Linked DNA regions of Homo sapiens. The protein of the gene in region 2 purifies or fractionates together with the protein of the main gene of each other region. This does not show direct contact. Each region holds a gene or a part of one and is shown on either strand. Other genes may lie near its edges. The genes, in order: PGM1 and MDH1.

Region 1 (16,403 bases), on a different chromosome or scaffold from region 2:
CCCCCAATACACCCTAACGAGGCACTTCTCACACTATATTGCAATGCCCACTTGCGGAGACCGTTTTATGCACTACTGCATGCCCCAAATACACAGCACTGTATTAAGCAATAAGAAAACATTCAGTAAATGTTTCAGGGATGGAAAGCACCCCATCAAATCTTATTCACGGAGATTTCTGGAGCAAGTGGACCTAATCAACTATTCACCAGAACCACTATCCTAAAACCATAAGGGGTAGACCTGGCATACAAACACCAAACACCGTAACCAGTACTTAAGCTACTCAGGATCAATTTTGCTTACTTTGGGGCTGGCTGCTGTGTTCTTTTGAGAAAACTTAAGTATCAGGCTGACGACATATTACTGAAAACCTAAAGTTATACAGAACAGTTCTCCCTCCCCCCAGGCTCTGTGCATGAAACACTCTCTGTAAGAAAGATATTTCTGTTCTGAAATTTATAAGCTAATAGGTGTAGAGCATCTTGACAGGTCATTGGCAAATCTGGGAAGAAGAGAAGTTAAAATGAGGGGGTAATGGCCGGGAAACCTTTTGCAAGAAGTTTAAAGTGTCTGTATTTCCCATCAAAACCCCCAACATATTAATTTCACAAATGAGTAAAGAAGCAGCTCAAGCAATTTGCCCAAGATTAAACAGCTAATAACTACCATGTCCAGGAATCAAACTCAGATCTCACACCAAAGATTATATATACTTTTAACATAAATTTTAACATAAAAGATGTAATTTTGATATTCCACTAAGATTCTCAAAATGGCAAAACGCCTGTAACTTTTTTTTTTATTATTCTTTAGCACATCTGAATTTTGGACTTTGAGAGAACTAGACGAAACTGTGTGTAGAGATTTGTTTTTGGCAAGAGGCTTACATTAGTCCAGTGGAATGACTTTCCTGAAGCAACATTACAGTTTCAAAAACAACCAAATAATTCATATTTGAGTGGCACCTTAGAATTCACAAAACCTTTGTATGTACATTATTTCATTCTATCCTCATAAAATTCTCTGATATAGCATATATTGGAATTAATCCCACTTTACTGGTGAGAAAACAGTTTTAGATAAGTTAAGCAGTATACATGATATTGTACAATTAATTATGAAACTGAAATTTGAAGCAAAATCTCAAAGTCTTCACTTCCAACCCACTACTATGAACTGAGGTTATGTGGTAAAATTAGGTAGCCACCAAGTGGTCTGACTTCCATTTGGAACCCATTGTAAGTTGAAAATATCATCAGTCAAAAATGCATCTGATCCACCTAACCTACCAAACATCATGGCCTGGCCTAGCCTACCTTAAATGGGCCCACAACACTTACCTTAGCCTAAAGTTAGGGAAAATCATTGAACACAAAGCCTAATTTATAATAAAATGTTGGAAGATCTCGTGTAATTTATTAAATACAGTACCCTGTATTGTACATTATTGGTCGTTTACCCTCGGGACCGCGTGGTGGACTGGGAGGTGTGGCTCACTCCTAGAGTATCATCCTGCATTTTGCTAGCCTGAGAAAAGATCAAAATCCAAAATCCAAAGTATGGTTTCTACTGAATGTGTATCACTTTTACACCACTGTAAAGTTGGACAACTGTAATTCATCATTCCATGGTAAGTCAAGGACTGACTGTAATAGAATTCGCACCCTGTTGTAACTACCCATGGAGTGCCTGTCTCCCCCACCAGCATGAGCACCCTAAGCACAAGGACTTTGTCTTACTCATCCTGTACCCCCAACCACTGTGCACAGTGCCTGGCATACAAAAGTGTTCCGCAATGCTTGTCAAATGAACACATTCACATGTCCCAGGAGGTTTCCAGAAATGCCAGCATACATTTCTTGCAGCTTCCCATCTGCAGCAAGACATTGGCCTGGGCCCAGTAACCATTCCACAGATCCATCCTGAAATATCCATCCTTAGCTAGCCACTGCTAGCTGGTGACTCAAAACAGGTGAAGATCTCAGATTGATGGGCCTGTGGCTGAGATTTAGAGCAACTGTGAACCTCTGCCTGACAGAAAAAGTCCAAGGGATAATGTGTGGACAGAGGCAGGATAGGACAGCCAAAAAGTGAGGGTGGTAAGAGGCACAAAGACCCTCCCTAGGCCCATCTTCTTATCCCCTCCCTCTGCCTTCCAATGGCCTCAGTATTTGGAATAATCATAATAATCATAGAATCATCAGAATCTTCTCTTTACTAACCAGTTACAATGTCAGGCCCTATAACAAGTGCTTCACAAATTTTATTTCATCCTCACAAGAATCTTTCAAGGCAGATATTACGATTACTCTTTCGAATACCACTTCTACATATGGAGGAGCTGTCTATGGCAAACTGTGGGGTAAGTGATTTTCTCATGGATTTGACCACAAAGCGGTTAGAGTGAACTGTGTGGCCCAGCCCAGAGAGGAAGCTGGGCTTTCATGACAGGTGCCAGTCTTATCCCTGATTCCATCTGAGTTTTCTACACTGATTTCCCTTTTGCTTCATTTCAAAATCTTCCTTTAAAAAGCACTTCATCTTGTTCCACAGAATGCATTTTTCAAAGTCCCCATGGAGGTGGTATAACCTAATAGTTTTATTGCTAAATCAAAAGGCCTTTCCCTGTCCCCACCCAGTTATACCATCCCAGATCCATTTTCTGGCCTCTGAAGTCAGGGGACAATTTCACACAGTCGAGGTGGGCACTGGCTTAGCATTTGGGTTTCAAGTTCTATGGTTTAGAGCTGACAGGACTCTCTTCCTCGGTCAGGGCCGGGTATTTGGCCATTTTGTCGGTTTATATTTTAACAAACCTTCCCATTTTGTACAGCTCCTAAATGCCTCACCAAAGCAGGTTTAAACGTTTACCAGAATGGAAGAGAACTGTATCCCCAGGCCACTGCGGTAGGCTGCAGAAAGCAGAATGCCAGACTCTGCCTCAGCAAGAACTGTCTCTTAAGCTCCTCTCTACAGGTCAATGTGCTTGAACAGTATAAAATACAGTAACTCCCTTTAAACAGTTATGCCAGTTGAGTACATTCATCTCAATTAGCATTATCTCTTTCAAAACAATCACCTTGGGAAACAACATATTTATTCAAACAATGCTGACACCTCTCTAACTCTTTTAGTGGGTAACTGTTTTTACTGTCTGCGGCACTTTCTTTGAAAGTCCTCAGTCATGACAAATCTCATCCTTTGAGAATAGATTTGAACTTTGGAAAAAGACAAAAATTGGCTGGAGCCATGTCTAATGAATAAAGTGGGTGATCAAATCTTGTTACATCGCTTTAGGTGAAAAATGAGGCATGACTATAAAATAATGTGACTGGTTTTCCTAGGTGACCCATAAACTGACTGGCTGAAAGATAATTCCCATAGAGGAGTTTCAAATGCTTTGAGCACTACACGCATCACTGGAGTGCGTGCATGGTTCCCAGAGTGGCGATTTGGCAGGGTACGATACTAATTTGGATATATAAGTTCAAATATGTTTATAAAAAAAGAAATCTGATTGCTTACCCTCACGAAAATGAAGAAGCTATTCTGGAGAAATGTCGCCTCCTTTTTTTGACAGCCTGGTCTGCTGTGGACAGAGAGTCTGCCAAGAAAGACACACTTATCTTCTGCAGAACGCCTTCGCTGGGCACACCACCCATCCCAGGCACACTCGCCTATCCCAGGCTGGCCCTGAGCTCCCATGACCATCTCTTTTTCCTTCTGTGTTAGCTTTTATAATACCTAATGGTTACTGTCTGGTTTTGCATGTGTCAATCTTCCCCATTCAACTGGCAGCTCCTTGCGAATGAGGACATCTTTAACCCTCCCATGCTCAGGACAAGGCACACAGAAGCATGGGATACTAATTCCACTGCTCCTGACACAGCCCTTACTTTGCTTCTCATGATCCTGTGGTTTCACTTGGTAAATGGAACTTCCCCTGCCTGGCAACCAAAACTGGACATTTGGTCCATGTAAAGTCTACCCACACAAACGTAGAGACTGAAAGTAGACTAACGGCTGCTTAAGGCTGAAGGGGTAGGGAAGCAAGGGAGATTGGCTGCTAATGTAAGGGGTTTCTTTTAGGATCATGGAAATATTCTGAAGTTAGATTGTGGTGATGGTTGTACAGTTCTGTGAATAGACTAAAAAATATTGAATGATTCACTTTAAGTGGGTAAATTATATAGTATGTGAATCATACCTCAATAAAGTAGTTTAAGACTCGTACAATGGCAATGTTTGTGCCTTGGTTCCTTTCTAAAGTGGGGTTGGAATAATTGACGGCCAAGGTCTCTTCCAAAAATCTAGCTGCCCATATAAAATTAAGTTCTGTCTTCTCTCTGTAACACTACCACTTGAAAATGACAGTGATTTTCACCAGATTTGGAGGGAATGCTTAGGACAGTATAAACTATTGGTTGTTTCCCAACATCAATTCTCTGTTTCATTTGGTTTGTCAAATCCCCAATGTTTAGCTTGACAGATGACACCCAGAATAAGACTGATATTTCACAGCCCTCCTTGCTGCTAGAGGTAGGCTTAGCTAAGTTTTGATTAATGCGACATGAGTGCAACAGATATGTTCAATCTCTGAGAAAGGTGTGCCTTCCTCCATCTTTCTCCCCTGTTGGCATGTTAGCTGGCATGAAGGTAAGGTGGTGGGCAGCCATCCCGGACCTAGATAAGAGCAACACTCCAGGGAAGGCTGCACAACAGAAGAAAAGGGGCATGGGTCCCTGTGTATAATGGAGCCACACATCAGCCCTGGACTGCCCACACCCAGGATATGAAAGGAAGGGTTCCATTACTATCAACTTTTAAGTACTTTATTTGGAAACTCTGCTAACAGCAGCCAAACCTACATTTTAACAAAAAAGTTGGTATTCTGTACCAAAACAGAATCTAAAACATTGGCATCAGCATGCTTTTTATGGCATGGAAAAATTTGTTGCCTCTGATAGCATGGAAGGCAGACCACTGGCCAACCAAATTTGTAGCTTGAGACAAATGGTTGGCAGAATTCAGAACATGAGTGCTTGTCAACTACCTCTTGCTACAATAAAGACGGGAGCTCAGGCAAGGGCTGGCCATTCTGCAGAGAGAAATAAAGGCAGGTTGGGTTCTGCTAAGGGAAGTTTTGTTTTTTGTTTTTACTGTGGCCTGCAAATGATACCGTCCAAGTCCAGGAATTTGTGCCATCACAGAGTTGAGATGACAACTATTTGTGAAACCAAGTTAAATCAGCTATACAGTAAGCAGCAGGCTTAGCAGAGAAGGCTGTGTCTAAAATCTTTCCCAGGGCTAGGTGCGGTGGCTCACACCTGTAATTCTGACACTTTGAGAAGCCAAGGTGGGTGGATTGCTTGAGCTCAGAAGCTGGAGACCAGCTTGGGCAACATGGCAAAACCTCATCTTTACAAAAATACAAAAAATTAGCCAGGTGTAGTGGTGCATGCCTGTAGTCCCAGGCTGAGGCTCAGGTGGGAGGATCACTTGAGCCTGAGAATTCGAGGCTCCAGTGAGCCATGATCACACCACTGCACTCAGCCTGGATGGCAGAGTGAGACCCTGTCTCAAAAAAATAAAAATAATAAATAATAATAAATAAAATATTCCCCAGGATTCTCTGTCAGACAATGGGAACTAGCCCACCAGCAAAATCAGATTAAGGATACTGCCTTCGTACTAGCCTATCTTTTCCACCTGTCTCAAGGTAGCCATCAGTAATAGAGAAATCAAGGGAGGCACAAAGCATCCAATAAATACAAGTCAAAGTTTTTAGGTTTCAAAACTATCTAGGTGAGAACTTTCACTGTGATTACCAGCACATGGAACTGATCAGGATAGGCCAGAAGACTACTAAATTTGTGAAGGTACTGTACAGTGAAAGAGCCAGGAGCCTGGCCTGCAAAAGTCACCCCTGCCTCTTTTCCTCCAACTTTCATCAGCAGGAAGCAGGTTACATAAGCTGTACAGCCCCAAAAGGACTTTTAGGGCCTTCTCCAATGTCCACTCTTACTCAATAAATATATTTACATGAGCAGGTGGATAGAGTTCCTCCCTGAGGGTGGAACCAGGGTTCCCTGTGGACCTACTCCACTGCCAGGACAGGAGTGTGCATTCCCAGCCAGGACAATGCGACAATGTGAACACTCCTATGGCTAGTGACTGGTCTACATATGTAAATATACAACTATATCCCCTCTCTTTACACACACACACACACACACACACACACACACACACACACACAGAGTTATGTAACTCCCTCCCTATATATATAGTTATACATAGTTATGTAGTGGGGACAGGGGGCCTGATAATTTGTCTTTAACTTTACACAAGGAGCCACACATGGGCTTGATGGAGAGAACTATGAACACTGAGTACTGACTGGGTAACTGGAAGGAATCTGGGGTGCCTCCACTGGAAAGGAGTGCTGTGTTTCAATGGGCAGGAAGAACAATGGGCATGGCTGTCTTCATGGCCAAAGAGGTGGACCATGGCACATATTTCTAGTGTTCCTTCTCTTCTTTAAGGTAACAGAACCACTCATTTTCAGGGGGCCATATGCCTCTCAATATAGAGTCTACATTTTCAGCCCTTCTTGCAAGTAAATGTGGCCTGCATGTTAGATCTTCCCAGTGGATTGTGAGCAATAGTCAGGTACACAATTTCCTGATTTTAAAGGGGGAAGACACTCTGCCCCATCTCTCCCCTGTGCCCACTAGATGAAACATGGATGTGGTAGTAGAAGCCATCTGCAACCAGATGGGCAAGGGCAACACCTTCAAGATGGCAGAGCAACAGGATTAAAGAGGCTGGGTCCCAACATCATGGATCCATCATGCTAGTCTTGGCCTGCTGACCCACAATATTCCACAAGACAGAAAAACATCTTGTTTAATCCACTGTTGTTTTGAGTGTCTGTTACAACAGCTGATTGAACCTATAAAATCGTAAAAATTCCTTATAGGCTACGTGGTGTACATCAAATTCACTTTGGAAGGCACCTCAAAGTATACTCTTTCAGAGTGGTCCAAACAGATCTGCAGCGGTAAGATCAAGCCTTGACAGGGAAATCTGAGATTTCAAATATAAGCCCGGTAGAAAGGCACAGGGCATAAGTGCTCCAAGTTGCAGGTGATGAATCATGATTGAGATGATTCTCATATGTGCACTCTGAGTAGCATCAAGAATGTGCAGTGTAGTCACATCATACAAGTATTTATCTTGCACAAATGTAACTGTTGTATATAGAACTTCCAGGGAGACAAAGAAGACAAGAGTGAAATTTAAACAGCATGGGCAATTCTGCCACCATTTCACCCAGTGACCACAGGCCCCTGCTCAGTCTTAGTCCCCACGTGCTTCTCAAAGTATGGGTATCTTGAGTGCACTTCTGCTATTTAAAGACATACCTGTTGTGTTACATGTTGTTCTCCAATGTGGTACTTTCCTATGGGACTTTAAGGATGATTTTGACTGAAGTTTCATCTTCCACTCGAACTCTAGAACCCATCCCACTGTAAAATGCAATTTCCTCTATTAACTAGATGATAGTTAATGGCTTGCCCCCATTGATCCTGGGAAGCCATCTGGTCTTACGATTCTGTTCTACTGACTCAGTTTTCATTTTTTATGTGGAACATTTAAGGAATAAAAACCAATGTGCCTCGAGGTGGATTTTGCCTCTTGTTTTACATTGTGATTCCAGAAACTGGTTTTAATTCAACCCAGTAGTGAGAAAAATAGCTCTGACTTACATAGCAAGATCTCCGCACTTCCCTACTCCACATACTCATTTCCTGCTTAAAACTGCCCAGATTAGCATTATCCTCAGCCACTCTCAGTGGGAACCTGGTATTTGGAACATGGCCCAACACCCCTTACATTCTAGGAAGAGTGGGGGCAGTTCCCAGGCTCTTTTCCTGACTTTGTGACCTGGGACACCTGAAAGGTTTGTTGTAGACAGGAAATAAGGCCATGCATGTGGCAGTAACTTGTAAAATAGAAAACATGAGGTACATTTTTAGTGCAGTTGCTCCTTGCAGAGTATGAAACAAAAATACGGAGTTGGGGGGCAGTGAGGGGAGCTTTCTCTTAAACATGCCAAATTCTCTCACCTATGGTTCTGCCTGGAACATTCCTCTCTGCTCTTCACCTTCAGGTCTGGTTTTAGTTGTCACTTCCCTACTCCCTCTGCTGGAACCAGGCACGCCTCCTTTATGCTTTCCTAGCCTCCTTTGCTCACCTCCATCCCAGTGCTGACAGCACCTTGTGGCAGTTCTCTGCTTGTCCGTAACCCACCTAGCCTCCAACACAAACCTTCACCTTAAGTCCCAAGCATGTGAGGACTGGGCCTGTATTGTTCTCTGCTGCAACCTACGAGATCACCATGAAGTTTCACCAATCAGCTCATTTTGAGCTCCCTGCCAGTTTACAATCCTCACACTTGTCGGTTTAGCCCCCAAATGGCTATGACACCATGCAGATTAAGCCCTCCGGACTCACACAATGTAGTAGCCATTTCAATTCACTCTTGAGCAACATTTCAATTCACTTGTGAGCACATTGGAGTACAACATACAGGACTAATATTTGGTCAGAAGGACTTTTGTCACTTACCTCATAACTCTACATGTGGTGACCTGGTTAGAAAATACTTATTGGGCTGAATCAATCACACTCAAAGCAGCCAAGAACAAATTCATATATTAGTTGCCAAAATAAGCCATATGGTATACATGGATATTAAAACAAAATTTCACCTTCCCTGCATGCCCTTAATGGCAGTTTAAAAAGAAGAAACTTAAATCTGAGAAGATTCTTGTATAATATAGATGGTCCTATCAACCCAGCATGGTATAGATTGGTATTTCCCAAAATTCTTCTGTTTGGGGTCCTTTTACAAACTCTCAGTACTCATATATTAAAAGCTCTGAAACTCCTACTTAACATTGCCCAAGCCAGTTTCTCCATGCTATTAACCAGCATATTATAACAATCCCCAGAACTACTTGCTCTGGGATATATTTATTTATGGAAAAGACCAACCAGATGAAATATCAGAAGACTGGAGTCCCTGTTCCAACACCATTAGCATACTGGACAAGTCAACCAAATATTTCTGTCCTACCACCTATCGCATTTCATCCTTCAAAAACACTTTGGGGTACTCATAGAGAAAAAAAGAACATCTTTCCAATATGAAAACATAATTTTCCAAGTGTTTCTGATTCATGATTAAATCTTTATTGGCATGACTTAATTAGCATTCCCCACTGTGTTAATTCAGGGCTGTCTTTATGCCTTGGGGAATCAGCTCAGTGGTGATTTGGAGAAGCTATGGGAAGGAGGACTTCCAACAGCTGAAGTTTAAAAAACTAAACAAAACAAAACCCAGCTTACATCCATCCGCGTATCCCAACACTAAGCACAGCCTTCTCACCCTTTCCAAACAACTCCCTATGCTGCCCCCTTGTGATTTCTTTCCCCTTTGAGGACCCCAGGGGAGAAAAGTCTTCTCCGCAGTCCTCCCAACTGAAGCCCTCGGCTAGCCATTACTTACTTAACACACTCAGGAGCCATTTTTCAAAGGTGGATCCCAACTGTGAGCACAGCTTCAAAGTCAGCAGAATAACTGGCTATGTCTGTGTGGGCCTCAAGGGAACTTGGAGGAGAATAAAGGGATCAGTTCAAACTTTCCTGCTTCACTTTCTTAGAAGTGTAGCTCACTCAAATCAATCTGCTGAAAGCTCTTCTAAAGTCTAAAGGGGTCCAGACTACACCACTGTGACATAAAAATTATTTTGAGCCAGTCATTTAAAAATAGGCTTTTTACTAAACTCCTTCATCTGTCTTAAAAGCAGTGTGCCCCAAAGGAACTCTGGAGTTTCACAACCAGGGAAGATCGACTCATTACCATAACTAAATAGACACTGGCATAAAACTACCACATCTCCTATCTAGTCTCTTAAGGGCTGATTTATCTCTCCTAAAGTCGTGGTTTCCAGCAAATGCTCTTCTCCTCTTCCGCCTTCCCCTACTGAGATGATGTATAGGCCCCCAAGTCTAACTGCCTCCTGTCACATTTTTCTGTAAACTCCCACAAATGTCTTTTTGTTGCTCATTTGTCTTTTACATTTAATTTGCAAGCCCCCAGTATATAACCTAGGAGGGTAGATGAAAAGTTTTCCCTACCCTAGAGTCCAAGAGAGAAAAAAATTATTGTTAAATATTTGATCAATGTTGATTACACATCTTATTATCCCAAGATAAATTTATAATAGAATAATACTTATAATCTATATGCAAAATGTCATAGTATATTGGGACCCTTTGTACGATAAAATGTATGCTACATTTATTTACCTGAGGCATAATTTTATAACATTAAATGATTATATGTGTTTATCCTTTCCATCTAACTCTTCCTCTGTCTGGAAGTCTTTTCACGGATATCTGCATGGCTCACTCCTTCACTTCATTCAGGTCTCTGCTCTCATGAGGTTTATCAGACATCCCAATTGCTGCACTAAAAAGAGCAGCCCATCCTCTAATGCTGTCCCCTTTACTGGGTTTTATTTTTCTTCAGAGAACTTATCTTCATTTGACACGTTTATCATCTGTCAGGCTCAACGAGAACCCCACAGCTCTGTAGAGCAGAAACTTTGTTCAATTCACTGTTGTATCCGTAGTACCGAGAACCTAATAGGTGCTCAATAAATATTTATTGAATGAGTCACTCTTTCCAAAACAGTAGAGCACTCTTCCCTGTTATCTTGTTTACAAAAACAAAACAAACCCTCTATCTCAGAAAGGGAGAACGTTTTTCTTTTTCTTCTACAAAATTTCATGAGCATTAGATTTGATTAAAAAAGAAAAAGGAAAAAGATGTTTCACCAAGAGCATTAGTGAAGCCAAGAAAGAAAAAGTCCCAAGCAAGCTGATTTAAGTATTTTATGTAACAAAGATTGTTTAGTGACTAAGTGTCCGGCTCTAAAAAAGAGTCCTGCCTATTCTCTCTTTCTCACTTCTCTCGGCAGGTCCCCTTCCTGAAGGGTAGCCCCATCTTCTATCGCACACTATCCGCTCTTCAAGACATAATTGGTTTTAGGTGCAGGCACCTCTTCTTTCCCAATCCAAAATGTTCTCTCTCTCGCTGAGCTCAGCATGTTTTCTAATTCTGTTCTTTGTATGTCTATGTGTTTCTTCTGTCTTATCTCCCCCAAAAGATTGTATGCTCCTGGATGGAAAGGACAATAGGTTATCCATACTGGCATTCAGTGCTGATTCAAAATCAGAAAGTGTAAACAAGGGGAGAACAATTGTTCAAAGCCCACCATAATTCATTTTATATTTATTTATTTATTTATTTTTGAGACAGGGTCTTGCCATCGCCAAGGCTGGAGTGCAGTGGTGCAATCACAGCTCACTGAAGCCTTGACCTCACAGGGTGAATGTGATCCTCCTACCTCAGTGTCTCAAGTAGCCGAGACCACAGGCGCCCGAAACCACACCAGATTAAGTTTTTTTATTTTTTGTAGACAAGGGGTTTCACCATGTTGTCCAAGCTGGTTTGGAACTCCTGGGCTCAAGTGACCCACTCAAGTGCGGTAAGCCACCATGCCCGGCCCCACCATAATTAAAAAGTGGTTTTTTTTTTTTTTAAAGTGGGGGTTACAGCATGTTAAAAAGTGACTTGGGCCGGGTGTGGTGGCTCACGCCTGTAATCCCAGCACTTTGTGAGGCCGAGGCGGGCGGATGATGAGGTCAAGAGATCCAGACCATCCTGGCCAACATGGTGAAACCTCGTTTCTACTAAAAATACAAAAATTAGCTGGGTATGGTGGTGCACGCCTGTAGTCCCACCTACTCAGGAGGCTGAGGCAGAAGAATCACTTGAACCCAGGAGGCGGAGGTTACAGTGAGCCAAGATCCTGCAACTGCACTCCAGCCTAGGGCAACAGAGCAAGACAGTGTCTCAAAAAAAAAAGTGACTTGAAGGTGTTTCTCTGCCAAGTCATCCCTGCCCCAGGGATATAAGGTTTAAAGTTAAAGTAGCAAGGTGTCTCCACCTAACTCCAACTACCCAAGAGTCTCAAAACCTTCCCCTTCCTGCTCAGTGTTCTTTTATTTCCTTTTCAAGAAATGTGAACTGCTATAGCCAGAAACATGTTCCTTCAGCAGTGTTTGCAGATGGATCTCATGAAAGTTCAGAAAAGGGTGGTTCACTTCAAGCGGGAGACAGTGGAGTTCCTCCACTATAAGGCGAAGTTTGCAAAGTCCCACTAGTTTGCTCTGAGAACATGAGACCCTTAACCTCTGGGTCATGTGTTTGAGGTCCATTTTGGTGCAGGCATCACCTGATGCTAAAAAAGGATCATTGTTTAGTGTGGGGTTCTTAACTTGGGATGCTTACATCCCCTTCCCCTACCTCAAGAGGTCCTTGGGTAGAATTCAATGGGATCCATGAATATGAATGACAAAATAAACAAAACAATCTTTATTTTCACTAACATCTAACTGAAATTTAGCACCTCCTTTTATTATAAATGTAGGAAGCAAACCACAGTATTATTACTACTACTGCTACTATTACTACTACTACCTAGGAATTTATCATCAATAAAAATTATATTTTCATATCCTATTATAGTTATCTCAAAATACTGAGATTGCAGACGTCTCAAAACATCATTTATACTCACCACTACTTTGAAGTAAGGCAGTATTAAATCCTCCACAAATCTTCCTATGTCAGTAAAGAAGCATTATCTTGATATATCACAAATCTGGTTTTTTAATATTTTGATTATACTTCAATATAATTTTGCTTCCTTTGTAATGGTTTGTATTTTGTTTTATTCACTTAAAAATAAAAATACTCTGCCCGGCACGATGGCTCACACTTGTAATCCCAGCACTTTGGGAGGCAAGGCCGAGGCAGGCAGATCGCTTGAGCCCATGAGTTCGAGATCAGCCTGGGCAACTTGGTGAAACCCCATCTCTACAAAAAATATAAAACAATTAGCCAGGCATGGTGGCATGCACCTGTAGACCCCAGCTACTTAGGAGGCTGAGGTGGGAGAATCAACTGAACCTGGGGAGACTGAGGCTGCAGTAAGCCACGATCGCGCTACTGTGCTGCAGTCTGGGCAACAGAGTAAGACCATGTCTCAAATTTTTAAAAATATATATTCTGAGAAGGGGCTCCACAGTTTGCACAAATGAGTAGCAAAGGAGCCGTGACAAAAGAATCCCTGTAACTTGACAACAACAACAACAACAAATACCCTCCTTGCTCATAAGTTCCCACAAAGGTATTTATTTTATTTTGCTTAGGGTGGTGATAAATCATCCTTCAAAACATGCACACATTCATTTGTGAGCTTAAACTCTCCTCAATTTCTGATGCTGGTCATTTGCAGATCATTAGACCCAGAAGTGATTTTTAGAGACCAGGAATAGTTTCAACTAAAGAATTCGTTGGGATTCTCTTGGACTTTTCAGTAACATGGGCCAATAAAATTCCTTTTTCACTTGGAGTAATCCAAGTAAGGTTTTTGTCATTTGTACCCAATTGGGCTCTGACTAACACGGAACCCCTCTATATTGGTTGAGGCTGTTGAGGATTAGAGGAAGGTGGGAGACCATCTGGGTGGCTCATATCTGCATCACGTTGGATTGTGTCCTAATACCAACAAAACATTGATAACACACCTATCATTCGAACAGTTTCCAAGTGAGGTACTTGTAAATATGTTGTTTCATCTAATCCTCACAACAGGCTCTTCAGGTATGTATTATTCCCAACCTTTGTGGATGAAACAAAAAAGGACTAGAAATTTGTATTTGTATCTAATCTAAACTCCCTCAATTTGTATTCATTCTGCTAAGAATTCCTCCTACCAGACAAACCCACTCTGGGAACTCCAAGTCATTCTTTAAGACTCAATTCGGCTACCACCCCTCTATGGAGCCTCCCTCCCTTCATCTTCCCCTCCCAAGTACAGCCCCTCAGGTTAAAGACACCTGCACATCCCTCCATCACAACACCTGACACATTGTGCTGTCTGCTTACTCCTGTATACCACCCCTCCCAGACTATGTCTTTCCCAAGGGCAAAAATATTTTGTATCTCAAGTACAATGTCTGAGGCAAAGCAAGCACATAATAAATGTTTGATGTGAATAAATTTATTGGTCACCAGCTACATGCTGGCTTTAAATCAAGTGCTAGAATACAAAAGTGACTCACAGTTCAGAGCAAATAAACAAGAATTCATTGAATGCTACATAGTCCTAGGCATTGCAGATACAGGTAAAACACAGGTCTGACTTAAAGAAGCTTACTCTCTAGTTGGAGGCCGTTGACATGTAAACGGAAAATTTCACTAGAATTTAATATATATATTCTAGAATTATCTATGGGAAAGGAGCACTTAATAGGTGGAGAAGAGTGGTAGGGATGGGGTGTCAAGAAAGGTTTCTGAAGATGCCATCTGGACTGAATCATATCACAAGAGAAAGAGTAGCATATTTAAATCCCGAGTGAGTAGAGAGAGTGAACAAAATCAGAGAACAACCTGAGCGTAGAAACCTAGGGAATAGGCCAGGCGCAGTGGCTCACGCCTGTAATCCCAGCACCTTGGGAGGCCGAGGAGGGTGGATCACCTGAGATCAGAAGTTCGAGACCAGCCTGGCCAAGATGGTGAAACCTCATCTCTACTAAAAATATAAAAATTAGCCAGGTGTGGTGGTGCATGCCTGTCATCCCAGCTACTCAGGAGGCTAAGGCAGGCGAATTGCTTGAACCTGGGAGGCAGAGGTTGCAGTGAGCTGATTGCGCCACTGCACTCCAGCCTAGGCGACAGAGTAAGACTCCGTCTCAAAAAAAAAAAAAAAAAAAAAAGAAGAAGAAAAAAGAAAGAAAGAAAGAAGAAAGAAACCTAGGGGATAGTCAATGTGCAGCCCATGAAGGAACTTCCAAAAAGTGTGAGTAGAATCAGGAGAGTAAGCAAGGCCAAGGGAGGAAGAACTTTACAAGAGTACAAAATCAGCACTGCCAAATGCAGCAGAAAGGCCAAATAAGATTAGACCAGAGTGTATTCCATGAATTTAGCAACTGGCAAGTCCCTAGTAACTTTGGCAAGAGCAATTCTACTGGAGTAGTGGAGGGGGCAGAAGCAGTGAAATGGCGAGTAAACCGGAGGTGAGAATGAGAAATAGTGAATGCAGAAAGCTTTTACAAAGGTTGGCTGAGAGAAGAGCAATAGGGCAATGGCTAAAGGGTGATGAAGTTTTAAGAACTTTTTTTTTTAGTCTTAACTAATTCTTTCCTTCCCACCCCACACTACTCCCAAATGGACAAATTTCCATCTGGGCACCTAAAATTCCCACTCTGCTGTAAGCTCCTTAAGGACAACTCTTGGGTCTGCATCATCCTTTTAGTCCACACATTTCTCTGAACATGGTATTCAACAGGATCTGTTGAATGACTGACTGAATAAATGAATGAATGAATGAAATGCAAATTCAGCACAGGTGGTAACAGGGAAATGATCTACTGGGATACAGCTATTGTCTGTTCTTCTTTCATGGGAATTTGCGCTTGTCTGAAAATTCAGGACCACAAAGTAAACAAATCCAGGCAATCTTCTCTCACTGATGCTTATAAATGTTTGGCCCAGGAAGGCAGATGTAGATAGAGCCCAGTTTAGATTTTGGAGCCTGGAAAACAGATCTTCAAGATCAAGGGCTGTTCATTCTTCATTCTCAGGAGCTGTTCAAGTTCTTGGGATTGGCAGATCTATATTGGACTCTTAGTGCTGCCATTATAGTTTTTGTAAATTATTTAACCTACCTAAGCTTCAGCGTCCTCGTTGGCAACTTGAAGATACCCATAATAGCATCTACCTTATAGGGCTGCAGGAGGATAAATGAGACCCAGAAATGAAGCGCTTACCATAGTGCTTGGCAAATAGTACTCAATGTCAACAAAATAAGATAAATAAAGTACTATTAAAATGAATAAAAATATCCATTTCAGGGGATGCGTTCCAGAAGAATTGGGCATAAGTCAAATCTCACTTAAAATATAGAAAGAAAACTTGGTCCTCAGAACTCCTTAGAAATGTTTTACAAAAGTAAGTGAATAATTAGCCCCAACTTATCAATCCACTTTTTTTTTCTTTTTTTTTTTTTTTGAGACGGAGTCTCGCTCTGTCGCCGAGGCTAGAGTGCAGTGGCGGGATCTCAGCTCACTGCAAGCTCCGCCTCCCGGGTTCACGCCATTCTCCTGCCTCAGCCTCCCGAGTAGCTGAGACTACAGGCGCCCGCCACCACGCCTGGCTAATTTTTTTTTTTTTTTTTTTTTTTGTATTTTTTAGT
Region 2 (16,403 bases):
ACATAACTTTAAAAATGAATGGGGTGGCTCTGCAGGTATCTATATAGCTTTTATGGTTTTTTTTGAGACAGGGTCTTGCACTGTCACCTAAGCTGGAGTGCTGTGGCATGATCTCAGTTCTTTGCAACCTCTGCTTCTGGGGCTCAAGTAATCCTCCCACCTCAGCCTCCCAAGTAGCTGGAACCACAGGTGTGAGCCAGCAAACTGGGCTAATTGTTTTATTTTATTTTTGTAAGACGGGGTCTTGCCATGTTGCCCAGGTTGGTCTCGAACTCCTGAGCTCAAAGCGATCTGCCTGCCTGGGTCCCCCAAAGTGCTGAGATTACAGGCATGAGCCACTGTGCCTGACGCTAAGTATCTATATAGCTTTAAGATGTATTACTAAAGGAAAAACACAGAGTGCAGAACAGTGTGTTATAATTTATGTACAAAAGGGGATGGTTACATGCACACACATATATTTACATACATACTTTGGTTATGCATTGAATGTTTCTGAGCTATAGGCCATGGGACAAAAACAAGGCTTAAATGGGTGGGAGTCAGGTGAGCAAAGAACACTTCTTTTCACTATGTATTCCTTTTTTTTTTTTAATTCTCAAAATAAATATGTGTATTTTTTTCCCTGTAAGGATAAACAAAAATTTGGTTTTCATTTAACACCATTTCATTGATTTTCTAATGTATATATAACTTTTATTTAAATTATGATTTAACTGGCAGTGGAATTATAGGGTTTTTCCCCCACTCCTTCTTTATGTTTTATTAGAATTAAATAAAGCTGCACTGGCTATCCACTTGTTGTTCAGGAAACATTACCAGGGTCATGATCTGCAGAGGTCAATATTCCCTTAAGGTTTAGGTTTATACAGATTGTACCTCTTTTGGAAAGCTTCTTAATCTAACTTTATTGGCTTAAAATGTAATGTCTTTTGCCCTGTAATGCATCCATGTATCATTTCCTCAAGTACTAGTAAAAATGCTTAGGAAAGGCATAGGCTTTTCACATATTATCATGCTGCTTGAAGACACAACTTCCTGGGCCTGGACTCCATTAAGAGAAGGAGCAACAAAATGCTTTGTTCTCTTGGTAAAGGTGATGGAAGTGAAGAGCATTAAAAAAATGGCATAAAGAGATAATCAGTTTCACAGTGTGAATATTCAAACCGAAACCCATGCTTCAAAGGCAAAGTTGGTGAAAAATTACTTGTTTCTACAAGTAATCTAGATCTCTCCAATAACTTTCATATATACATACTTTCTTCATATAACATTTTCTTTTGTTTTTTAAAAAGACAATCTTGCTCTGTCACCCAGACTAAAGTGCAGTGGCATGATCATGGCTCACTGCAACCTTGACCTCCCGGGTTCAAGCGACCCTCCCACCTCGGACTCCCGAGTAGTTGGGACTACAGGTGTGCACCACCATGCCTGGCTAATTTTTTATTTTTAGTAGAGATGGGGTCTCACTACATTGCTCAGGCTGGTCTGCAATCCTCCCACCTTAGCTTCCCAAAGTGTTGGGATTACACGCATGAGTCACTGCACCCAGCCAAGATTTTCTTTTTAATTCTACATGAAATTAGTTTTCATGCTTCCAACTAATTGCTCTTCTAAAGATATGTTTGATTCATTTGTTTTTTTCTTTTCTGGCTTATATAAAGTGGATAGAAGGTAATGATAGAGGAAACCAACAGGAAGGAGTAAGAGCATGTTTTCTTTCTCTTCTGCCATCCAGTCCCCCTCTAGTACCCTTTATTAGTGTGTGTATATATATATATTTTGTTGTTGTTGTTTTGTTTTGAAATGGAGTCTTGCTGTCACCCAGGCTGGAGTGCAGTGGCATGATCTCGGCTCACTGCAACCTCCCAGGTTCAGGTGATTCTCCTGCCTCAGCCTCCTGAGTAGCTGGGATTACAGGCATGCGCCACCATGCCCGACTAATTTTTGTATTTTTAGTAGTGACAGGGTTTCACCATGTTGGCCAGGCTAGTCTTGAACTCCTGACCTCAAATGATCTGCCCGCCTCGGCCTCCCAAAGTACTGGGATTACAAGCATGAGCCACCGCGCCTGGCCCATTAGCACATTTTTAACAAGGAGCAGCTGGTAAAGAAATGTGGCTTGCCAAATTCCAGTCCTAATGTCACGAGAATATAGAAGGGAGTGTTTGGAACTGAAAGAAAATAACAACTGGTACAATTCATACTTACTTTATACAAAATTTTGTTCATTCTATATGAAATTTTGTTTTTATGCTTCCGATTAATAGTAGTCCTAAAGGTAGTTTTACTCAACTTGCTTTTTCTTTTCTACATCATAAAATGATCTAGGTAATTTTTAATTTTTTAAAAAGGAGATGGTCTCGCTCTGTTGCCTAGGCTGGAGTGCAGTGGCGTGATCCTAGCTCACTGCAGCCTTGAATTCCTTTGCCTAGGTGATCCTCTTGCCTTACTTTCCGGAGTAGCTGGGATTACAGGAATCCACCACTGCACTCAGCTAATTTTTAAATTTTTTTGTAGAGATGGGGTCTTGTTTTGTTGCCCAGGCTAGCCTTGAACTCCTGGCTTCAATCAATCCTCCTGCCCTGGCCTCCCAAAGTAGTAATTTTAAATAAGTCCAACCAACAAATATTTGAGCATCCATGAAGAGTACTATGTTAGGCCTGGAGATATTTATTAATACAATATTGCCTATTACATGTGGACAGTGTGTTAAGCATGAGGATGAAAAGATAGAAAATGCCTTCTGCCATCATAGGTTTGGGGAAAAAACAAGACTATTAAAAAAACTCCACTATTTTTCTAGTAATAAGCTTAGTTTATTACTTACTTCTAACATCATAACACTATGCTAGTGTTACTCCTAACACTAGCATAAACTTCTGTGGTATTTAGTGGTTTTGAAATATAAATGATTCCTTATCTGCTAAAAAGTAATACCTCCAGTGAAAACCTATTACCATTTTTTTAATATAATGAAAATATTCTAATTTCATCCAATGGCATAACACTGTTAACAATATTATCTGCAACTTATTTAATATTAGTAGCTAGCCTTAAAATCAAATTATCTACAAAGCGTAAACCTTTAAGATTTTAAAAATATGGTATTTGTTCAACGTAGGTAATGTTTACAAATATATGCTGAAATAGACTGATTCATTATCACAAGGTGGGTTTCTATATTCTATTTAAATACGAGATTTATGCTTTATCTTTCTAGCCTTACTGCCTTCCCCTGGTTAAAAAAATGTATATATATCTATCTCAAAATTATTTAGGCAACCTGGGAAACATTCGAGTTTGTTTTCTTTTCTTCTTTTTTTTTTTTTTTTGAGACGGAGTCTCGCTCTGTGCCCAGGCTGGAGTGCAGTGGCGCCATCTGCTCACAGCAAGCTCCGCCTCCCGGGTTCACGCCATTCTCCTGCCTCAGCCTCCCGAGTAGCTGGGACTACAGGTGCCCGCCACCACGCCTGGCTAATTTTTTGCATTTTTAGTAGAGATGGGGTTTCACCGCGTCAGCCAGGATGGTCTCGATCTCCTGACGTAGTGATCCGCCCGCCTCTGCCTCCCAAAGTGCTGGGATTACAGGCGGGAGCCACCGCGCCCAGTCCTCTTCTTTTTTTTGAGACGGAGTTTCCCTCGTAGCCCAGGCTGGAGTGCAGTGGCGCAATCTTGGCTCACTGCAACTTCCGCCCCCCGGGACAACCTATTCTCCTACCTCATCCTCCCAAGTAGCTGGGATTTCAGACCTGTGCCACCACGCCTGGCTAATTTTTGTATTTTTAGTAGAGATGGGGTGTCACTATTTGCCCAGGCTGGTCTCAAACTCCGGACCTCAGGTGATCCACCCATCTCAAGCTTCCCAAAGTGCTGGGATTACAGGTGTCAGTCACTGCGCCTGTCCGCAAGTTTGCTTCCTGAATAGACACTAAATATTAGCTAGAAACAGAGTCTGAGTCACTTTCATTTGAATATATATTTATTTAGAATGCACACTAACAGCATGACGATAAACTGTCATTCACAAACCTGTACCAAGAAGCACGTAATCTTTAAAATGTGTTGTTTTTCACAAGTAATTTAAGTATAGCATTATTATTATTTGGTACTTGAGTCAAAGACGACATTTAGATTCTTCAGCTTTGAAGCATTTAGTAACATCATTGTCTAGTCAGGCAGAGGAAAGAAATTCAAAAGCACTTTCTTTTTCTTCTGTCAGTTCCTTTGCAGTAAGATCCATCTTCTCACGTGAGAAATCATTAATAGGGAGACCTTCAACAAACTTCCAGGTCTTATTCTGTTTGAAAATAATGCAAATAAGAGATTTAAACTGGAACTGATCTTTCAGTAAGCAACAACCTTGTTTGAACTTATATTTAGAGGTATATCGTTTTAAAGTCTGATTCTAAAGTAAATAAAAATCCAGATTTTAATTAATAGATAATTCTAATAAAAACTCAACACTTGAATTTTAAACCCCTTGAATCTAAAAAAAAAAAACTTCAAAAATGACTGACTTTAGCACAGTTATAATAAAGAACAACAACACTGAAAACCATTGCTTCATTTAGAAATATACTATTTGTAGGTCTCTAATACTAGAGGCATAATAACATAGTGTCTAGTGGGAAGAGCTGAATCTTCCTTTCCAGATTAATTTCAATCATAAAAACTTTCAATGACCTGAAGCTGAAATACATATAGTTTTAAAGCTGAGAAAAATGTCTATTTTAGTAAAGGAACAATTTTCTAGATTAAGTGATAACATTCTGTTTTCTTTTTTGGGGGACAGGGTCCCGTTCTGTTGCCTGGTGGAGGGGTACTGTCATGGTTCACTGCAGCCTTGATCTCCTAAGCTCAAGTGATCCTCCTACCTCAGCCTCTCAAGAACCTAGGACCACAGATGTGTGCCACCATGCCCGGCTAATTATTTTATTTTTGCAGAGAGGGGGTCTCACTATGTTGCCCCGGCTGGTCTTGAACTCCTGGGCTCAAGCAATCTTGCCACCTTGCCCTTCCAAAGTGTTGGGATTATAGGCGTGAGCCACTGTGCCTGGCCAATAATACCATTCTTAAGAGAAACATATAACTACTTCCTCAAAGAAGGGAAATAGCTCCAAAATACCTTACCTTGATTACAACAGGGAATGAGTAGAGCAGATCATCAGGAACACCATAGGAGTTGCCATCAGAGATAACACCCATGGACACAAACTCTCCCTGAAAATAACAATGTTTCACATACTCATGATGATTAGTTTACACAACTGACACATGAACTAATAAAATTAAACCAGGTGACCCTTTCTTACTATGTTCATAACATCATTACTGTGTAAGGAACTATCATCAGCACCAGGTACTGGTGACAAGGTAACTTTCATGGATATTATTTCATTCCACGCTTCCATATCATATGTGAAGTAGGCCAGGGAAACCTAATCCTCATTTTACAGATGAGGAAGCTGTGGCATAGAAGAAAAAAATTCACCCCTACTATGTATCAGGCATTGTGCCAGGTGTTTTCCATGTGCAATCTCCTTTAACCCTCACAACCCTGTGTATAATAGTAATGTCATGTAAAAGATGACAAAACAGCTCAGAAAGGTCAAGGCTAACAAACCCCGAAGTTTACTTGTTAATAGGCAGCTGAGCTGAGAAATGAACCTAACCTGACTGACTGCTAAGGCTATATTCTTTTTATATTATATCATCAGGCAACAAAAATAAAATAGAGTGACCTGTGCAAATCACTAAATCCTTACCTCTGGGGTTCCAAACCAGATGTCCCTGACGTGGTCACAGATGGCTTTTGCAGCAGACATGGCACTGGATAGTTTTCGAGCCTTGATGACAGCAGCGCCACGCTGCTGCACAGTCTGGGAAGGGGGCAGGTGAAGGCAGCAGTATTACTTGGTCATGATAGCAAAGTTTTCATTAATTCCAAGTCGACCTTGGGGTGAAAAGCTATGACCAGAGCTTAATGTTTCCCCTCCAAAATCATGCAACAACCCAATGTCAGCCTTACCAATCCTTCTGGAAAAAGGAAACTATGTATCTCCATACAAAGTTTATCATAGGTCAGACAAAGACATGGATCTTGGTATAAATCTCAACTGCTGTCACATCAGATCACACTAGATCATGACTGGCTTACTATGATCCCGAAAGTATGCAGTCATCAGAGCAACTGTGAAAGACCTGCCCTCTTTAAGGTTTTCTGTCCTAAGAGTCTCTCAAGAGTTCTTTACGCTCAGTGTTAAGAAGGCTCACAGATTTTTCTTACCGTGACAAATTCTCCCTTGAGCCAGCTGTCATCTTTCAGAGCTTCATAAACACCAACTTCCTTTCCTTGCAATTTCACCTTGGCATGGTTGACATCTGGATACTGAGTCGAGGAATGGTTTCCCCAGATAATGACATTCTTTACATCATTAGCAGTCACACCAAGTTTAAGAGCAATCTAGTTAAATTGAAAACAAATACATTACTGAGACAAATGGTTTTTATTTCCAATTGGGACCTGTTTTGACAAATGCCCTTAAATAAAGATAAAAAGCTTCTGAAATTTCAAGAGAACACAAGAGTTATATTGACTTGTAAAAAATGTAAATTTATTGCTTGGCAATTTCCTACAACAGCTTAACAGTGGTAACAACTGTGGACTTGAAACCTTATGGAGTAGAATGTTTAAGGGTATGAAGCATCCCATAGTTTGTGGTTAACTTATTAGTACAGTAGGTGTATCAAACATAAAACATTAATCGTTACTATTATTTATCAATTTACTATTTCTTGAATATGTAAATGTGATCTTTTGTTTCACTGTTAATGTTTACTTGGAGATGTCTTCTCAGTGCTTCTGAGTAATCAGGTATTTAGGCACTTTATATTTAGGTAAAATTTTTATTATATACCATATAGAAATTAATTTTCAAATAACCCTAAATATGAAATTTTAGAGTTGGATAGGACTCAAATTACCAAGATATGACTGTCCTCATTTTATATATCAGGAAACTGAAGGAAAGAGGTTTTATATATGTGTATGTGTGTGTGTGTACACACATATATACACTCTAAAATTATAACATATGTAACAATCTCTAGCTATAACTCCAGAAAGCACTTTAGGGTCCTGCAATGCCTTGCAATCACATGTAGTACAGTAGCCACAAAAAAGGTTAGAAAGTTATGTCTTGGGCTGGGCATGGTGGCTTACGCCTGTAATCCCAGCACTTTGGGAGGCCAAGGCGGGCAGATCACCTGAGGTTGACAGTTCGAGACCAGCCTGACCAACATGGAGAAACCCTGTCTCTACTAAAAATACAAAGTTAGCCGGGCTTGGTGGCACATGTCTGTAATCCCAGCTACTTGGGAGGCTGAGGCAGGAGAATCGCTTGAACCTGGGAGGCGGAGGTTGCGGTGAGCCAAGATCGCACCACTGCACTCCAGCATGGGCGATGCAGCGAGACTGTCTCAAAAAAAAAAAAAAAAAAAAAAGAAATGTCTTGGTAGATTTAAATAAAATCAGCCTGCTTGTTATTTGTCTGATAAGTTTATGTGCAGAAAATAAATTATGATCAGGTATATGTATAATTTGTTCCTAACTAGACAACAGAATTTATGATGAACCAGAAGGGAATGTGGAAAAATATTTTAAGAAGCTGATCTGTTTTGGTGACATTGTGGGCAATTCTTCCTTCCTCTGTGTCCCAAAAAGAATGGGAGAAGAAACTAGTTGTGCCAGAGTCTGTAGCTTTAGCACACATAAATAAAGCATTTGAGTATTTACCATGTAAGAAAAGGAATACACTTTGATATTTTAAGGAAAATTTTAAAATAAGGGTAATAACAGCTCCAAACTGAAACAACTCAAATGTCGTTCAAGAATGGTTAAATATGCCAGGCGCGGTGGCTCACACCTATAATCCCAGCACTTTGGGAGGCCGAGGTGGGAGGATCAGGAGGTCGAGATGGAGACCATCATGGCCAACACGGTGAAGCCCCGTCTCTACTAAAAATACAAAAATTAGCTGGGTGTGGCAGCGTGTGCCTGTAATCCCAGCTACTCAGGAGGCTGAGGCAGGAGAATCTCTTGAACCTGGGAGGCGGAGGTTGCAGTGAGCCGAGATCGTGCCATTGCACTCCAGCCTAGGCGACAGGGCGAGACTCTGTCTCAAAAAAAAAAAAAAAAAAAAAAAAAAAAAAAAAAAAAAAAAAAGAACGGTTAAATAAACTGTATTATGTCTTACATAGGCAATGGAATAAATAAAAGGGGTAAGTGGAAAAACAACAAAAAGAAACAAACAACAACCTGGATGGATCTTAAAGGCATTAAACTGAGTGAAAAAGAGCCAGTCTCAAAAGGTTCCTTACTGCATGATTCCACTTTTGTAAATTCTCAAAATGACAAAATTATAGAGGTGGAGTGCAGAAAAATGATGTCAGGGACAGAGGGTGGTGTGACCATAAGGGAGAGTATGAAGGAGTTCTTTTGTGAGTGATGAAGAAATTCTGTACCTTGACTATGGGGGCAGTTACAGGAATCTACACTTGTAATTAAATGTCATAGAATCATTCATAAAGACACAGAAAAAAATAAGTGAATATAAAACTGGTGAAACTTCAGTAAGTCTAGTTAATAGTATTGTGTAGTTCATCAACTTCCTGGTTTTGATAATACTCTGTAGTTATGTAAGGTACCATCAATGGGTGATGGGTACATGGGCCTTCTCTGTACTATTTTTTTGCGACTTTTGAGTCTAAAATTATTTCAAAATAAAAAGCAAAAAAAAAAAAAAAAAAAAACCCCAACCAACCAACCGAAAAGGATAAAGATGAAAAAAAAGGCCATTACCTAAAATGTCTGCAATGACTCGACTGGTCTTCATACTAATTTATTCAGTTAAGTAAGAAGTAAACTGTCTTTACTTTCACTCCCACTCTTAAACTAGTTGAGACTGCTTTCTTAAATCCTAAAATAGTTAAAAGTTTACTTAAAAATTTATGTTTGTGATATTGTAAATCACTTTTGACCGATCTAATCCCTGCAAGTCTTGCAAGTATTAGGACTATTATCTACAATATTTGCATTAGTCTCCACAAATTAGTTCACAGTTGGGTTTCTGGGGTACCCAGCTATTGATCTGCTTAGCCTGTGGGATAGGGTAGAGTGGCACGCTGTTCAATGAGTACCATTTTTTACGTCTGCCATGACCAGAAAGAACTGGGGAAGAAACTGCTCTTATATTTATACTTAAATTTAGCTGGTATGGTATATAGAAAAAGATAAATTTATACCTTGAACAATTAACTCAAGATATATATTACCAGGAAGTTAGAGCCTATAACTTCCCTGAATGTCTGCTTCAATGCTCCCAAGTACAGTGAAGACAAAATGCCTCTAGGCCTCTCCACCCTCAGTCCTCCTTGGCTCCCATGCCTTCCTTTGTTCTTGTTGCCCTCCTCCTCTTGCTCCTTCTATCTCTTGAGCTAATCCAGTTCTGTCTGGACAGCAAAGGCCAGGTACTTTGCATCCAGCAGATATAGTTTCTTAATATGATTCATGTCACAATTAGTCTAAATTAATACATACCCAGGATAACAGCTCTTTGCTCCCTTAGACACTCATGTCTGTCACATAGGTCTGTTAAAAGTTTTTGATTAATTCTCCAGCCCTAGTAATTTTCTTACAAGCTAACTGGTATCATTGTCAAATTACCTTATCTGGTATCAATGTCAAATTACCTTATCAGCAGACATAAATACAGCACTGGTTTGCAAATACACAGGCAAGTTCTGCAGGTGTTAAACAGTCCCTAAGTCGCTAAGGCCTCTGAATTCCAAGACAAAAATATCTAGCAACCAGTCCTGTAAGAAAAACTTATCTTTGGGTTTGTTATTTTTCTCACTGGATAAACAACTTCTTCTAGAGGAAGAAAGTGCTTCTTCAATGACTCCCTAAAAGCTCTCACTATGCCAGATTGACATGCTGAAACAATGCCTAGCCAAGGTCCCAGGAGTAACAAAGAACATGTCCCCAAGTGAAGGTTAAAGTCTGAGGAGATAGCACTTTCTTTCCTCTTTGCTCATTCAGACTTGAGCCCTGCAGTGAGAACTGTTTCAGGCACCAGGACAAAGTATCTCTTTGAAGTACCTTTGGAAGCAGAATTTTCCAATGCCTGTCTCCACCAAAGCCTCAGGTGAAACAACAAAAAGTGGTTGTTAGTGTCATTGTTGTAGGAACTTTCTTGTTGTAGGAACTAAATAAGTCACTTTCTGGCAATCCAGAGTTTGCAACTGTAACATGTATAATATCTCTTCCTTTACAACTGTCCCACAGAACTCAAACTGCCTGCCATTCAAACAAACTCCTATTCGTTCTCAGCTACCACCAGACCCAGCTCACAGCCTATAGCCTCTCAGGGAATATTTGCACTTTAAGCTAAAAATTTAAGGGTTGTTATCCAACAACCCTCTAAATTAGGAATGTTTAGGCTGTATGCTTCTTAGAAAGAAGAAATCAACTAATAATAGCAGCCAACCTTTCTTGTATTTACTATGTGCAGGCACCATGCTAAGGGCTTAAAACAGATCTTATTTAATCCTCATAAGAACTCTCTGAGGTAGATACAATTATTACATTTTAAACATTGAATATACTTTCTCAAAATCACAGAGCTAGTAAGTGGACTAAGGTTAGTTGATACCATTAGGTAAGAACATACATAAGGGTTTGGAGTCAGGCAAATCAAGGTGGCTCCGTAATTTATGAGCTGTATGACTCTGAGCAGGTTCTCTGACTTCCCTGGGCCTCAGTTTTCTTACCTAATGCAGGGATAATATGAGATACCCATATGGTTACTATAAAAATTAAATGGAAAATTACATGTATAGCATTCAATTTACAGTAGATGCTTAACAAATGTATATTCTTTTCTCTTTCACTAGGCATTCCAGAGCTGAAGGATTATTAATTCTCAGGTTAGGGCAGTAGTGCTTCAGCTTAGACCTCACAGCATCTTCTGGTTAACAACAATTTTTTTTTGAAACTAAAGTTATCTTCTCTAGAAGAAAAAGCACTGAACTCATAGACCTATCTAGCAGTGATGACCTACAGACAAGAAGGGATGGCCAGAAAAGCATTAGGGCAAAGGAAAGAGGTTCTGTCCAAGAACGGGCACCAGGACCAGTTAGATCTGAAAAAGCCTAGGAAACTAGCTCAGATCAGTTGCCTGGCTTCTAATTTTTTGAAAAGCTATTGTTAATTCCCTGGTCACTGGCTCCTTGGCATACTTATCTATGGCTCTAAGAGTAAAGAAAATTAGCAACAGACTTTAGCTCCTAAGTAGTGAAAGGAGGAAATTTTACAGATACACATAGAATATTAAAAAGACATAAAATGAAAATTAAATATAAAATTAAAAATTAAAATCTGAATTTGATGGCTTAGCTGCAGCTAAAATAGAAGCAGAACCACACAATCACACAAAGCTCAAGTCTTTGTTTATATGAGATTATATGTATCTGAAAAAATTAAACTAAATTATGTACCATCATGTATAACTAATTTTTAACCACTGTAACAAGAGAACATTAGTAACTGCATTTCATTATAGTTAGCAATTGAAATATAGTTAAAGACGAAATCAAGTAGGAAGTCCAGCCTCTGGTCCTTTAAGAGAATACATTTAAAGACTCCCTAACAAATGAATAATAATTTACTTTTAATTTAATAAAAGTAATAGGTTCCTACTAAACAAAAACAAGAAAAAAGCACAAACTCAGATTCAGTTATTTTAAAAGTGAGAGAAAAATGTTTTAAAGTTGAACAACCACAAGATTTAAAATATATTTTTCTTACTTGAGCTTTAGCTCGGTTGTGATCCAAACGAGTCAAGCAACTGAAGTTCTCCTTGGGGATGGATGGAGCTGACTTGGAAGCAGTCAGGCAGTTGGTATTGGCTGGATTACCCACAACAATAACCTAGGAGGAATGGAAGGCACTGAAGAGTTACAGACTATATAGTTACTAACTAATCTATGTTAAAATTTGACTGAAAATGTCTAACAGGTAGCCTTTGTACAGGGGAGGCTTGGGAAACACCAAATACAATATAGCATAGGAAAATGCATTTTAAGTTATAAAAATCTTTTATAAAATGGTAATAAAAAATTTTGAAATAATATCAGATTTATAGAAAAGTTACAACCATATTACAGAGACTGACTCCCATATATCTTTTTTTTTTTTTTTTTTGGTACCTCTTTTGACAAGCTGTAGACAAGATACTTCATTGTCTCTAAGTAGTGCAGTGCTGGCAAATATTTCTCACGAACAAGGACGCTTTGAAGAAGTGGAATTACTGTGCAAGGAGTACTTTACCTCCAAATAGCCTGCAATTTAGCAGTCTGAACAATCTTCTAATCTTTTACTGGCACCTGTGGATTTCTATTAAACTCATTTATACTATTTTCTGTGATGACAGAAAATAAGTTAACTATTTAAAATGAAGTGCACAGAAAGCAAAAAATGCAGATATCTATGAAATGTTATTGATAGAACATTATAATGGGCAACTTAAAAAATCTTAAAAAATTTTCTTTCACCTTTTTTTGAAAGATAGGAAAGTATATGGAAATCAGTTAAACCTTTAACCGGCAAGCCTATTTGCTGGGTGACAATTAAGTTCTAGTTAATTGATAGTTCACTAATAAAAGAAGGTTTGGCTGGGCGTGGTGGCTCACACCTGTAATCCCAGCACTTTGGGAGGCCAAGACAGGTGGATCACCTGAGGTCAGGAGTTCGAGACCAGCCTGGCCAACATGGTGAAATCCCGTCTCTACTAAAAATACAAAAATTAGCTGGGTGTGGTGGCGTGCAACGGTAGTCCCATCTACTCACGAGGCTGAGACAGGAGAATCGCTTGAACCCGGGAGGCAGAGGTTGCAGTGAGCCAAGATTGCACCACTGCACTCCAGCCTGGGTGACAGAGCAAGACTCCGTCTCAAAAAAATTAAAAAAATTAATAAAAAATAAAAAAGGCTTACTGTAATATTAAGACATATTAGAATCTAAAGTAAATAGTTTGAACACAAAGAGAGAACTATAAGTCATACTGACTCAATTCTTCAAGAGACAAGCATATTAAAATTCCTCTGCATTAAGAAAATCTGAGCATTCAGAAACCACTATCTTCTATTCCTGAGAATAAACTTACCTTACAGCTAGCTATCTCCTTTCACAATCACACACAAATTTAAATGTCTAAATAAATATTCCCACGCAGCAAAAATGCACCAGAAGATCCTGTGCCTTCTCTATATGTTTAAGAACTAATACTAAATTTTCACGTTATACTAATAGGAAAAATATTTTTGAGCACTCTGAATATAGATTTCTATACTGTAAGAAAAAACCCAGAAAGGGAGAGCTTATCAAGCAAAACTCTAGAGCCGTATTTACTGATGATTGTACAGAACTAGAAAAAAGGGCAAATAATTTTGGTTTTGCTTAAATGCTAAAAGCATAAGTTTCAAATGCTAATAATGAAAAATCCCATAAAATACAGCATTGGTCACCTTAACTGACTTCTTGGCGTATTTATCTAAGGCTGCACCCTGGGATTTGAAGATTTTCACATTTGCTTTCAGTAAATCTTTTCTCTCCATGCCTTCCCTTCTTGGCATGGAGCCCACAAGAATGGCCACATCCAGGTCTTTGAAGGCAACGTCTTCTTTATCTGTTGCGATGACATCTGTGGACATGGCAATAAATACGCAGAGCTACTTAAACATCAAAGTTTGAAGTTTTCTTTTTCATATTGAATCTACCCATTAATTCTTTCACTTGTTGCAAGTGTTTACATATCACACTGATATACATTTCAGGAGCCTGAGAAAGATAATATATTAATTTAACAATCATAACATTAGAAATGTCAATAGATTTATTTTGCTTTTCCTGTTTCAATAATTACTTAAATGTCAAAACTCCATAGCTTTTATCTTTTATAATCATATATGATGCAAGGTATAATGATGACTTTTGAAGTGACACTTGTTATTCACACTAATTACCACACAACACAAAAGAGCAACTAATTCACCTAACCTTTAAATTACAATTACTTTAAGGTCTAAGACACCAATCACAAATTTAAAAATAATAAATGTTTATTGAGGAGTTTTGTGCCAGGATAATGCTAAGAGATTTATATTACTATCAAATTTAATCTTCTGATTTTATAGATGGAGACACTGAGGTTTAAAGAGATTAACTCGCCACCATCAAAAGATAATGGAGCTGTAATTCCAGCCTAGGTTGGTCCAGAGTTCAACCACTATGCTCCAGTGCTAGTACAATAAGCAAACATCACTTGCTTTTTGACTAAAGAACATAAGTCATCGCACTTCTTTGTTGATTGTATTAAAAAAGCTATGACCAACATTCAGCATTTTCACTGGAAAATTGGCTAGTTGCATCATAGTCAAGGCTGCCATAAGTCTGAAAATGGGCATAGACAGGAACACCAGTTGGAGAAAAAAAAATTATCTTCCTCTTTCCCAGTCACATGTCCTTATTTGCTGAACTTTCCCTTCCCTGTCATATTCATATCTGGCAGAGGACAAACCAACAGCAATCTGGGCCCTTTAGAGAAAAAGCACAGGGAACTCAGCAGAGAAAGGAATACAAATGGGAAAAAGCAGCAAAGCTGATTTGGAAAGAGCTGTGGGTGAGAAAAGGGAACCAACAGAATAGTGTGGGCAGTCATGTATTCTTCCACAGAACTTTGCAACCAAAAGACTTAGATGGCAGAGTATCCCTTCTAGCAAATGTTTATTCAACAGATGAAGAATTTTAAGGAAAGTTTTTCTTGGAAGGTATGTATTATTTTGCTTTGTGCAAACTTCTAGGAGAGTATCATTAATTAATCCTTACCAAAAGAAAGACTATGATGAAGAAATAGCTGAAGAAAAATATTTAAATTAATTTAGAATATTTTAATAAACTTTTCGATCAAATTTAAGGCTTCCTTATTATATCTGTGTTATAGTTCAATGATTTGCAAAGGCCCTTAGCTGAGCTCTTCTGGGTTTTTTCAAACTATAGAGCATATGGTAAGGACAATTTACACTATGTCTCAACCTGATGATTGGTAGATGGGATGGGGACCGTGTAAGAGGAACCAACCAACTTCCAGAGCAATGTATAGCTATGAAGGACATCCTTCAAAACTGAGAAAGTTTTCCATTACAGGATGCTACTATTACCAGTTAAGCAGACTCCATAACAACACAATGTAGACAATTCCTACGTTGTCTATAATGTGTGTGTGTGTAGACAATTTCAGGTGTATAACCCTTGTGCAATATTACACTTAACTGGTATAATAAATTATATACACACACACATTGGGGAAAAAAGGATAGTCCTTTACCTGACATTGATTGTTGCTCATTTCTTACCCTTATTTATCCTTGGTATACATAAGTAGTTAATAAACAGTGGTAGTTCAAAATAAAAAAATCCTCTTATGAAATAATTTCTAATTGAGAGCCTTTAACAAAAACCTAAAACCTGTATTTTGTAAGAAATCAAATACCATAAAATCCCTTCTCTACTCCCCAACCCACCTTTCAGGAGGGGAAGGGCACAGTCTTGCAGTTCCATTAGGACACCGTCCAGGACACCCATCATGGGGGTGATATCCAACAGCACAAGAATTATAGGCTACCAAATAGCAAGGACAGCATCTGTTAGTGTAGGCTATTTCATTTAGACACAAGAAAGTCTTTTCACATAGTTTTTATTTGGTATGTACATGCATGTAATTCCCATTAATTAGTCATGATGATTATTTTAGGAGGTCAGGTATCTAGCACTATGCCACTTTCAGAAAGAAGGATGCTATAAAACCAGCATTGGTTTGCTAACAGACACAGTGAGAGGAATCACCACTACTCAATTTTAACAGTATATGAAAAAAACATTAAACTGAGTGACATGCTATAGCTTGCTCTTATTGTTAATAGCTGTATATTTGATTTCAGTTCATGGAAAGCTAAGTACAGTATCTGACATGAAAGAATAATTCAGTATCCATGGGTCAAGAAACTGAATAAATGAATACCTTAGAAAAGGATTTTAGTGTATATTAATCAGGCTTGCTGGAAGTCGGAGTGCCTGCTTCAGCGGGGAAGCAGATTTCCTTACTCTTTTGGTTCCAAAGGCCATTTATGAACAAGGGAGTGCTTACTGAGTAACTCTCTCCCACATGACTGTAAGTTACTGTCATTAGTGATATCTCCCATTGACTGACACCTGCTGGTTGCACCAAGTCAACTGAGTACAATATATGGAAGAGTTCTCATTTGCAAAGTGTTTTCAGTGCCTG

What was found.
Region 1: the proteins of MDH1 (region 2) and PGM1 fractionate together in Homo sapiens (co-fractionation; 2 studies listed by BioGRID). This does not show direct contact.

What each region holds. Positions count from the first base shown.
Region 1 is NC_000001.11:63,594,777-63,611,179, reverse strand, and holds part of PGM1 (phosphoglucomutase-1), read right to left. Parts: intron 1-16,403. UniProt on the Homo sapiens protein: Catalyzes the reversible isomerization of alpha-D-glucose 1-phosphate to alpha-D-glucose 6-phosphate. The mechanism proceeds via the intermediate compound alpha-D-glucose 1,6-bisphosphate.
Region 2 is NC_000002.12:63,594,759-63,611,161, reverse strand, and holds the end of MDH1 (malate dehydrogenase, cytoplasmic), read right to left. Parts: intron 15,740-16,403; coding exon 15,643-15,739; intron 13,764-15,642; coding exon 13,588-13,763; intron 11,993-13,587; coding exon 11,870-11,992; intron 6,467-11,869; coding exon 6,290-6,466; intron 5,883-6,289; coding exon 5,769-5,882; intron 5,224-5,768; coding exon 5,134-5,223; intron 4,301-5,133; coding exon 4,175-4,300; coding exon of another isoform or gene 4,118-4,174; 3' UTR 3,965-4,117; downstream 1-3,964. UniProt on the Homo sapiens protein: Catalyzes the reduction of aromatic alpha-keto acids in the presence of NADH. Plays essential roles in the malate-aspartate shuttle and the tricarboxylic acid cycle, important in mitochondrial NADH supply for oxidative phosphorylation.